2 separate regions of the Homo sapiens genome follow, and region 1 is linked to region 2. Evidence: fine-mapped expression QTL. Tissue or cell type: tibial nerve. Region 2 holds a variant in brackets; the other region holds the start of a gene. All regions are shown on one strand. Distances are from middle to middle.

The links. PIP is the estimated chance that this variant, and not a neighbour inherited with it, causes the effect.
Region 1: it holds the start of DBF4B, and the variant in region 2 is fine-mapped to the expression of DBF4B in tibial nerve (GTEx, PIP 0.90).

Annotation. Positions count from the first base shown.
Region 1 is chr17:44,706,293-44,711,437 of GRCh38, reverse strand. DBF4B (DBF4B-CDC7 kinase regulatory subunit) reads right to left here and starts at 2,773. Exons shown (of 14, transcript NM_145663.3): 1 at 2,599-2,773; 2 at 2,072-2,134. The coding sequence starts at 2,617. RefSeq lists enhancers at 1,939-2,452, 2,453-2,967.
Region 2 is chr17:44,766,960-44,772,104 of GRCh38, reverse strand. ADAM11 (ADAM metallopeptidase domain 11) reads right to left here. Exons shown (of 27, transcript NM_002390.6): 3 at 2,311-2,387; 4 at 2,057-2,123; 5 at 436-521; 6 at 274-349. Among named protein-coding and RNA genes, the nearest start is that of ADAM11, 11 kb to the right of the region's middle. The variant C/A (reference allele first, on the strand shown) is at 3,142.

The DNA.
Region 1 (5,145 bases), 61 kb after region 2:
TTGGGAGACTGAGGCAGGAGAATTGCTTGCACCCAGGGCTTTGAGGCTGCAGTGAGCTATGATTGTGCCACTGTACTCTAGCCTGGGTAACAGAGCAAGTTCTTGTCTCTAAAATAAAATAATAATTTAAAAAAATTTAAAGAATCAATCTGGAGGCCAGGTGTGGTGGCTCACGCCTATAATCCCAGTATTTTGGGAGGCTGAAGCAGGTGGATCATGAGGTCGGGAGTTCAAGACTAGCCTGACCAACATGGTGGAACCCTGTCTCTAGTGAAAATACAAAAATTAGCCGGGCATGGTGGCGTGCTCCTGTAATCCCAGCTACTCAGGAGACTGAGGCAAAAGAATTGCTTGAATTCTGGAGGCAGAGGTTGCAGTGAGCCGAGATGGTGCCACTGCACTCCAGCCTGGGCGACAAAGCGAGACTCTGTCTCAAAAAAAAAAAAAAAAAAAAAAAAAAATCAAACTGGAATAAAAACGAAAATAAAAACCCTCTAAAATCCACACATTATCATCTTATAGTAAATTTTAAGAACAAATATAAAAATGTATAATCTAAAATATTGGGCTGGGTGCAGTGGCTCACTCCTGTAATCCCAACACTTTGGGAAGCTGAGGAGGGTGATCGCTTGAGCCCAGGAGTTGAAGACCGGCCTGGGCAACATGGCAAAACCTCGTCTCTACAAAACAAACAACAAAAAAAAATTAGCTGGGCGTGGTGTTGAGTGCCTGCAGTCCCAGCTACCTGGGAGTCTGAGGTGGGAGGATCACTTGATCCCGGTGAGGCCAAACCTGCAGTGAGCCATGATTGCTCCACTGCACTCCAGCCTGGGTGCAAGACCTCAAAATAAATAAAATAAAACATTTTTTTCTTTCATCAATATAATCCATAGGTTCACATAATCTAAAACATCTAATGAGAAAAGGAGGTCACTTACAAAGCAGCAAGAATAAAAAAGAAATGCTGAAGAAAACAAGGAGAAAATACTGTAATTTTTCAATGTGTTGAAGGAAAAAAAATTGACTTAAATTTTACTACAAGGCTGAAATAAATATATTCTTAGTTTATCACACAAAGCCTCCTTTTGAAAACACTCTTGAAGTTCTCCAGAGAAACAGAAGGGGGAAAAAAAACCAACAAGAGATGGGAAGAATGAATAACTCAGTAAATGAAGTGGATTACTGTTTAAAAGGCAACAAGCCGATGGCATATCTGTTAACAATCCAGAAGTAAAAGTAGACGGTATTTTTTTTTTCTTTTTTTTGAGACGGAGTCTCGCTCGGTCGCCCAGGTTGGAGTGCAGTGGCGCAATCTCGGCTCGCTGCAACCTCCGCCTCCTGGGTTCAATCAATTTTCCTGCCTCAGCCTCCTGAGTAGCTGGGACTACAGGCACGCCTCACCACGCCCGCCTAATTTTTTGTATTTTTAGTAGAGATGGGGTTTCACTGTGTTAGCCAGGATGGTCTCAATCTCCTGACCTCGTGATCCGCCCGCCTTGGCCTCCCAAAGTGCTGGGATTACAGGCGTGAGCAGCCGCGCCCGGCCAACTAGATGATATTAACTAAAGGGGCAGTACGGAGGGAAGTGCCATGTGCTAAAATACTTACCTAATTAGGTAGCAGTGTTTAACTTAAGGATTTTATTGTAAACAACTATGAATGTATTAATTTATATATTTAATAAGTCACTCTATCCTGACTCCACATCTGTCTGTTAATCTTGTTCATAATATGACTCTTACTTGACCTTTATCATGAATCCCAAAACGGTCTATGATGCTGCGTCCATACACACACACACATAAAACCACTAAGTGGGCCTGGTGAAGTGGCTCACACCTGTAATCCCAGCATTTTGGGAGGCCTAGGCAGGAGAACTGCTTGAGGCCAGGAGTTTGAGACCAGCTTGGCCAACACAGCAAGACCCCATCCCAATAAATAAAATGAATAAATAAGTACATAAAAACACTGAGTGATCGAAAACTCCAACAGGGGGAACATTTTTCGGTCTTCTCCAAGAGACCCTGGGGCAATTTTCACCTCACGTCCCTAGTTCTGTCCTGTTACCCACCTAGGTCCGGGGCCCGGAGCCTACTCTCAGCCATGGAACTCTCCAGCTCGAGGCAATCGTCTCCTGAGAAAGGACATAACAGCAACTCAACCATCTTCACCAACCCTTGGAACTTCCATGCCTCCCGCCCACTACTGTCTCCCAAAACGCGCACAGAAACGCGACTCCTGGGAACAGCAAGACTCAACTCCATTCCGACCTACATCCCGCGACTCCCGCCAGGCTCTTGCCCCTCATGCCCTCCGCCTCCTTTCAGACTCCGTTCAGTCAACGGCCGTGACCTCTTGGCCACCTCCTGTCCATCTCAATCTCCATACATCCCTCCAGGCTGTTGTCCCCTACGTTCCTCTGCCACCTTCATTCCTCGGTCCCCTCAACTCCTGTGGCTCCTTCCCGGCCCCTATACCCTCCTCAGCTTCGGCACCTACCCGCTGGTCACTTCCTAAGCCCCCTCCACGACTCCGCACCTCGCCTCAGCTATTAACGACCCCTTCCGCCTTTCTTTCTCCCCTTCCCGGCATCCGTACCCTTTCCCGGTTCGCTCATCAAATGCCGGCTCCTTCTCGGCCTCCGTACTCCTTCCTCAGAGGCCTCCGTATTACATTCGCGAGCTCCATGAGCTCTTCCCGATTCCACAGTCCTGGTTATCTCAGGGCAGCTACAGCATCAATCTCTTGGCGTTTTCGGCCGCGGCTTCAGTTTAAATTTCCTGCCGGCTCCACCCCTAAAAGAACGCCGTAGCTGCGAGATCCGCCCTACGGTGTCCTTGGAAGGACAATATTAGTTTCGCGATTCCTCTTTCCGTTCCCCCACCGCCTACGTCTTCTCAAACCGTCTCTTCATTTCTTGGCTCTTCACTGGCTAGACGGCTTTGCCCCTTAATGGCCCTCAAGTTGAGGACTAGTGGTCGCTTTTTAGTGATTCTTCACACTGAGCTGCATTGAAATTCCTAGAAGTTTGAATACTAAATAACAAAATAAGCCTAACACTTGCAGAGCATTTGCAGTTTACATAAAGATTTCACTTACACATCATTTCATCTTCACATTTTTGTCCCCCTCCCGTTCTTCAATTATTACCTGCCCAACAAAACTTCTCAAAAGACGTATCTTTATCCCTCACTTCCCATCTTTTCTTCAACCCATCTAATTAGACTGCTAATTAGAGATCAAATTTGATCTAATAAGAGATCATTCAGTGGAGAGCTGGGGACCTCCCCACAAAAACTGTACTTATCCAGGTCAACTGTGATTTCCACAGTCTGAAATACTATCCTTATCATATCCAACTTATAGATGGACTATTCCTTCTTTGAAATACTTTCTTCTTTTTGCTTCCATGACTCAGCACTCTACCGTTTTTTTCCCTATCTCAATGGTTCCTCCTCAGTCCCCTTTGCTGGATCCAAAGCCACTGTTCACCTATATATTTTGGAGTATGCCAACGCTTTAGCCCTTATCCCTCTCCCTTATCTCCCTAGGAGATCTCATCCAGCTCCACAGCTTTACAATTCAGCTCTGCCACACCTTCAGATTTTCTGTAGCTCTGACCTGTCTGATCTCCAGACTCACATATTCAAGTGCCTACTGGCTATTTCAATTTGGATGTCTAATAGGCACCTCAGGCTGAACACATTCAAAACAGAACATTTGTTTCGCTGCCCCTGTCAAAAAACCACCTGTTCTCCCCCCAGGTCTTCCCCTCTCAGTAAAATGTTACTGTTTACTCAAATGTCACAATCATTCACCCAGTTGCTCAAACCAAAAACCTAGAAGTTGTCTTTCAGTACTTTCCCTTGTGCCCATCCCCACTCCAAGAAAAAAATCCTACTAACTCTGCCTCCAAAGTACATCTGGAATCAGACCACCACCACCCTAGTTCAAGCTGCTATCATTTCTTGCCTAAAGTACTGCGGTCAATTCTTCACTTCTACTCCCGAGTAGCTTCCTATCTCTCCCCAGTATAATCCATTCTCCATTCAGCAACCAGAGTGATAGTTTTTATATTTATTTATTTTTTTATTGAGAGGGAGTCTCGCTCTGTCGCCCAGGCTGGAGTGCAGTGGCGCAATCTTGGCTCACTGCAACCTTTGCCTCCCGGGTTCAGGCCATTCTCCTGCCTCAGCCTCCCGAGTAGCTGGGATTACAGGTGCCTGCCACCATGCCCGGCTAATTTTTGTATTTTAGTAGAGTCGGGGTTTCACCAGGTTGGCCAGGCTGGTCTCGAACTCCTGACCTCAGGTGATTCATCCGCCTCGGCCTCCCAAAGTGCTGAGATTACAGGTGTGAGCCACCGCGCCTGGCCCAGGGTGATATTTTTTAAACACTGGTAGAGGTATATACAGTACATAAACTTGGTATCTCTTCCAGTGGGACTCCTCCCTGAGGAAGCTTATACATCTCAGCCCTGATGAACGAACGAAGCCTTGGCCATATGACTTGCTTTGGCTCATGAAAAAAGAAAAAAGTGACATCACTTCCAAGCAGAAACTTTAAGAGGCAAGATGGTTCAGCATGTTCTTTTTTCACATGTGTGACAGAATTTGTATAATAAAGGTATCTGCCTCAGCATTGTTTGCAATACCAAAAGATCAAAAGCAACGAAAATATTGATTAACAACGGGCAGTAGGTTAAATAAATTATGGTGTAGTCATACTGTGCAACACTATGCAACTCCAAAAAATGAAAATACTTTAAAATATAAATGTATTTAGGGAATCCTAGCCAGAGCAATCAGCAAGAAAAAGAAACAAAAGGCATCCAAATAGGTAAAGAGAAAATCAAATTATCTCTGCTTACTGATGATATGATTCTATAGCTAGAAAACCATGAGGACTCCACCAAAAGGCTCCTAGACCCAATAAATTACTTTAATAAAATTTTAGGATTAAAAAAAAGTCAACACACAAAAATCAGTAGCATTTCTATACACCAATAACGTTCAAGCTGAGAGCCAAATCAAGAATGTGATCTCATGTACAACAGCCACACACACAGGCTGGGCATGTTGGCTCACACCTGTAATCCCAGCACTTTGGGAGGCTGAGGAGGGTGGATCACTTGAGGCCAGGAGT
Region 2 (5,145 bases):
GGTCAAGACCTGGGGGCACCCTGAGAGACAGGGGCAAAGGACATTGGAGCCCAATGGGAGGTCACTTATGGGACAGATGGGACATTGGAGCTGGGGGCACAGGGGGAGCTGGGGCACAGGAGGGAGGGAACCAGAGCTGGGGTCACTGAAGAGGGCAGTGAGGCTGGGGTTACTGAGGGAGGAGCCGGAGGAGGAAGAGGTGGCAGCAACAGCTGTTGGGACAAGCTTGGCAGGGCCACCAGAGAGGATGGCAAGGGGTTGTGTGGGGCTTACCTGAGGGGCTCCCCAAGGTCCAGCCACCTCTTGGGGCTCCACGATGTAAGTCAAGTTCCCATCAGAGAAGACCCCACTGTGGAGAGAGAGGCGCAGCTCCCCTCCGTCCCCAGGCCTGGGCCAGAGGCTTCTCCCAGCTGCCCGGCCCCTCCCCATACTCACTGCAGCCCCTGGCAGGTGGAGAGGGCGGCGAAGGAGTGCGGGTTCCCCCGGAGCTTCCCCTGGTAGTAGCAGTGGTCTCCAGCCCCCTGAAGGAGCAGAACAGTGAGCAGAACGCTGGCATGAGGCCGGGGGCAGCCAATGGGCCTCAAGGCTTTTTGGGGGACACTGAAGCTGCCCTGTGTGCAGGTGGCCACAATCCCTGGGTATGCCTGGGGCTCTGGAGCCTGTTTCTAGATGGCTGGTGCTCCTAATTTGCCGTGCCACCCTGGGCAAGTTCCTAGCCCTCTGGGGTTAGGAACCTCTGGGCCTCCTTCACGTCATCTATAAAATGAGGAAGCTGGACTGTAGCAATGGTTTTTTTTTTTTTTTTTTGAGACAGGGTCTTGCTGTCGCTCAAGCTGGAGTGCAGTGGTGTGATCTTGGCTCACTGCACCCTCTGCCTCCTGGGTTCAAGCCATTCTCATGCCTTAGCCTCAGCCTCCCGAGTAGCTGGGATTACAGGCATGTGCCACCACACATAGCTAATTTTTGTATTTATTTATTTATTTATTTTTTGAGACGGAGTTTCGCTCTTGTTGCCCAGGCTGGAGAGCAATGGCATGATCTCAGCTCACTGCAACCTCCGCCTCCCGGGTTCAAACAATTCTTCTGCCTCAGCCTCCCAAGTAGCTGGGATTACAGGCATGCACCACCATGCCTGGTTAATTTTGTATTTTTAGTAGAGATGGTGTTTCACCATGTTGGCCAGGCTGATCTCAAACTCCTGACCTCACGTGATCCGCCCACCTCAGCCTCCCAGTGATGGGATTATAGGAGCCCAGCGTACAGCAAGGGTTCTTAGCCATTTGCTGGGGCTGGGGAAGGGATCAGACTCCTTTGAGAATAACAGGCAACATTTATTTAGCACCTACCATGTACCCAGCACTGCTCTGGCACTAACCATATATTACCTCATTTAATCATGTACTCGCCCCTAACATCACACACAACCTCATGCACTGCCTCCCAGGACACCCCTGGGCCTGTGGTTGGCTGAGGAGTGATGGGCAGCATGTGTCCTCCTGGCCAGACTCATGGGTTGGGGCTGGGGGGACCAGTGGCACCCTCCCGCTCCAGCTCTGCCTCCTGCAGAATTACTTGTGCTCCAGTTACTGAACAGGCAGTGGGGGCGGGGGGGGGGGAGACAGGCTATTTATAGACACTCATTCATTTTCAGGCTCTAGAGCCTTCAGGGCTGGGACCCTAGTGTCCCAGGCAGCTGGGATTTTCGGGGCCTTGATATTGAGTAAGAAGGGCCTTTCCTCAGCTGTCCCTCTCAGAAGAGTCTGGAGAGGGGGATTCCTGGCAGCCTGCTCGGAACGAGTGTCCCTGTAGGCCCCACGTGGGCTGGCTGGGGGTCAGAGCTCTGGGGCCAAGTGAGGGGACTTCAGGGCCCTATGCACTCAAGCTGCCCACTGTCCACCCTCAGAGCCTCCTGGGTCGGGAGAGAGGGAAGGTGCTGAGGGGCCAGGCCCAGGACCCCATCTCCAGTGGCCACCTGTCCCTACACCTGTGACCACAGAACCACAGAAACAGCACCTCCCTTCCATCCCCGGCCCCGGTCCCCTGCAGTGGCACTCACGGTGCTGTGCTGGGTTGTCCCCTCCCGGCTGAAGTGGCGCTCCACGTATTGCGAGGAGAGGAGGTGGCTGAGACAGAGGGGGCAGCAGGAAGGGGGGTCACGGGCGAGGTGAGGTCGGGCTTGAGGCTCGCCTCAGGTCAGGACCCAGGTCCCCTCTGCCCAGGCCCAACCCCCAGACCCCCAGCAGCCAGGCCCTAGCCATGTCTCCCCCGCCCCACCACTGCCCTTCCTCTTGGGCTCAAGGCCACACTCACTGGTTCAGCTCCAGGTCCAGGGTGAAGTTTGAGTTGAAGGCTGGGATGACGAAACTCACCTGGGCCAGATGGACAGGCTGGGTGGGGGGAGGGCAGAGGGGGAGTCAACCCAGGGAGGCCTGAAGGTGGGAGTCGGGGGGATCCCGGGAGCAACAGTAGCCCTGGGGAAGGGGTGGCCAGCCCTAGCAGCTGAGGGGACCATTGATTTGGGGGCAAGATGCTTTGTCCAAGCTCCTCTTCCTCCACGACCCTGCTCCTTTACTAGTGGGCAGAGGCAGGAGTGCTCAGCCCTGGGCACAGCCCCCTTTCTGCCCTCTGGGCCCGGGCACCTGTGCATCCTCTCTGGGGCTGGGCTGCAGGTGCAGCTGGGATGGAGAGGGGCAGCCCGGCCAGCCCTCTGCCTCATTATGCCCTCCTGGCTGGTGAGGGGCACCCCACCATCAGGCAGAGTAACGGGAGGGCCCCAGGAGTATCATGGGAAAGGGACAAACAGGAAATGGGAGGCAGGACCCTCGCTGCCTGTCCCCCTACCCCGGCCCCAGCCTCCATCTACATAGGAGGCCTCGGACAGGGGCGAATGGGTGGGAATGGATGGCTAGGCCCCTGGAAACTGGGCGACGGGCAGGTGCCATCCTGTTGGGAGTAAGGACTTGGCTCCTCTACCCCCAAATCCATTGCCCTCTGCCTCACCCAAAGCAGCTCATCTTTAATATTTCAATCCCATGGTTAATTTTTAAACATGGAAGTTTTCCTGATAAATTTTTCAGAGTGCAGTGGGGCTGGAGGCTCCAGGTTGCCACAGCAACACACCACGCCAGAGCAAGATGGCGG[C/A]CCCCCAGGCCTGGGCGCTTGAGGACGCCTGGATCACAGCAACCGCAGGGCCCAGGAAGGGCTGAGAGGACTCAGGGCTGGGGCCTTCTCCACACCCCTTGTTCATTCCAGAAGACTGACTCCAGACCCCAACATGAGGGTCACCCACTCTGCCCTGCAAATGGGAGGCTTTTGTTCGCTGCCTGGCCTTTGTGGTGGGGACGGCAGGTTGCAGGAAGGAAGAGAGCCCCAAGGTTGTGGTCATGAAATCCATAGCCTGTGCCTTGTCGGCTTCCTCCTCAACCACCTCATCACTGCTAATCTTTACCGAGCACTTCTTGTGTGCCGGGCCCTGGTCTAAACACTAAGAGTATTGCCCTGTTTGATCTTCGCAGCAACCCTATGGGATAGATTACTGCCATTCCCATCTGAAAGGAGACAGGCACAGTGGGGCTGACTAACTTGCCCAAGGTCACACAGCTAAAAAGTGGTGAAGCTAGGGAGTCTGCTTCTAGGGCTGTCTCACCCCAAAGGTGGAGTAAAATGGAAGAGGGCCCAGTGTCCATGAGAGGTCCTGGGAGAGGAGCAAGGGGGGCACCAACGGCCAGGGCCTGGGTGGGCTGACCTTTGCGCCCCAAGGACACCGACTCACCCTATTCCAGGCTGACCAAGGCTCCCAATTCCATCCTGAGCCCCTAGAGCATTGATCAGCCCGAAATAGAAAGTCAAGGACAAGGAGTCGCCACATCCTCTTCCCGGCCCATGGCCTGAACCATCCTGGCCTTCCCCTGCCCCTGGGACTGTTCCTGCTTGTTCTATCTGCCTCCCACCAACAAGCCCCTATGCCAGCCCCCTCCACAGCTGCCTAGAGGAGCAGCCTGCCAGACCCCTTGCCCCAATGCTGCTCTCTGACCGTGCAGCCCCAGGGATGACCCAGCAACCTCTCTGTGCCTCAGATTTTCCCACTGAAAATGGTCAGATGAGCCCAGATGCGAGGCCAGGAGGTTGGCTACGTATTGGTACCATCCTGGGCCTGGAGATTCCAGCAGAGTCTGCCCTGGCACCAACAGAATCTCCCTCACTCAGGAGGTCTGCGAGCCACCCCATCAAGCCTGCTTCCTCTCTGCAGAGGCCAAGCCAGTCCCCACTCTGGGGAAAGCCCCAGCTGATGGGGGATGAAGGCCAGATACCTTAAGAGCCTCCTTGTCCACCACCTCCTGCCACCTGCTGAGCTCTCACCACTTCCCCATCTGGTGCAGCTGAGCCCAGCAGGACACAGGGCTCAGACCAGATAAGCCCCTGGGGCAGTGCCGGGGCAGCTGGGGCTGGGGGCTGGGCCTGGCTGGAGGTGGCCCAGGAGGGGGCTGGGAGAGCCCCCAAAGGCGGTAGGAGAAAGAAAGAGACCACATACCAAGGGGTGTTTGCCTGGCCTGGCCCCATGCGGGGACACAACCCTGTCCCTGGTCTGAGGGAAGAGATGGGTCACACAAACCTATCTCAGTCCCCAGAATCTCTGTGGCCCTGGCACCTGGGGAGTGGGGAGGGGACTCCTGCTGGCACAGAGTCCCAAGACCGCCCCAAGCCCGCCCAGCATTAGGCCAATGTTCTTTTTTTTTTTTTTTTTTTTTTTGAGATGGAGTCTCACTCTATCACCCAGGCTGTAGTGCAGTGGTGCAATCTCAGCTCACTGCAACCTCTGCCTCCTGAGTTCAAGCAATTCTCTGCCTCAGCCTCCCGAGGAGCTGGGATTGTAGGTGCCTACCACCACGCCCGGCTAATTTTTTTGTATTTTTAGTAGAGACAGGGTTTCACCATCTTGGCCAGGCTTGTCTTGAACTCCTGACCTTGTGATCCACCCTTGGCATCCCAAAGTGCTGGGATTGCAAATGTGAGCCACCATGCCCAGCGAATGTTCTTTTTTTAAAATTAATTAATTAATTTTTTAAGAGATGGGATCTCACTGTGTTGCCCAGGCTGATCTTGAACTCCTGGGCTCAGACCATCCTCCCGCCTCAGCCTCCCAAA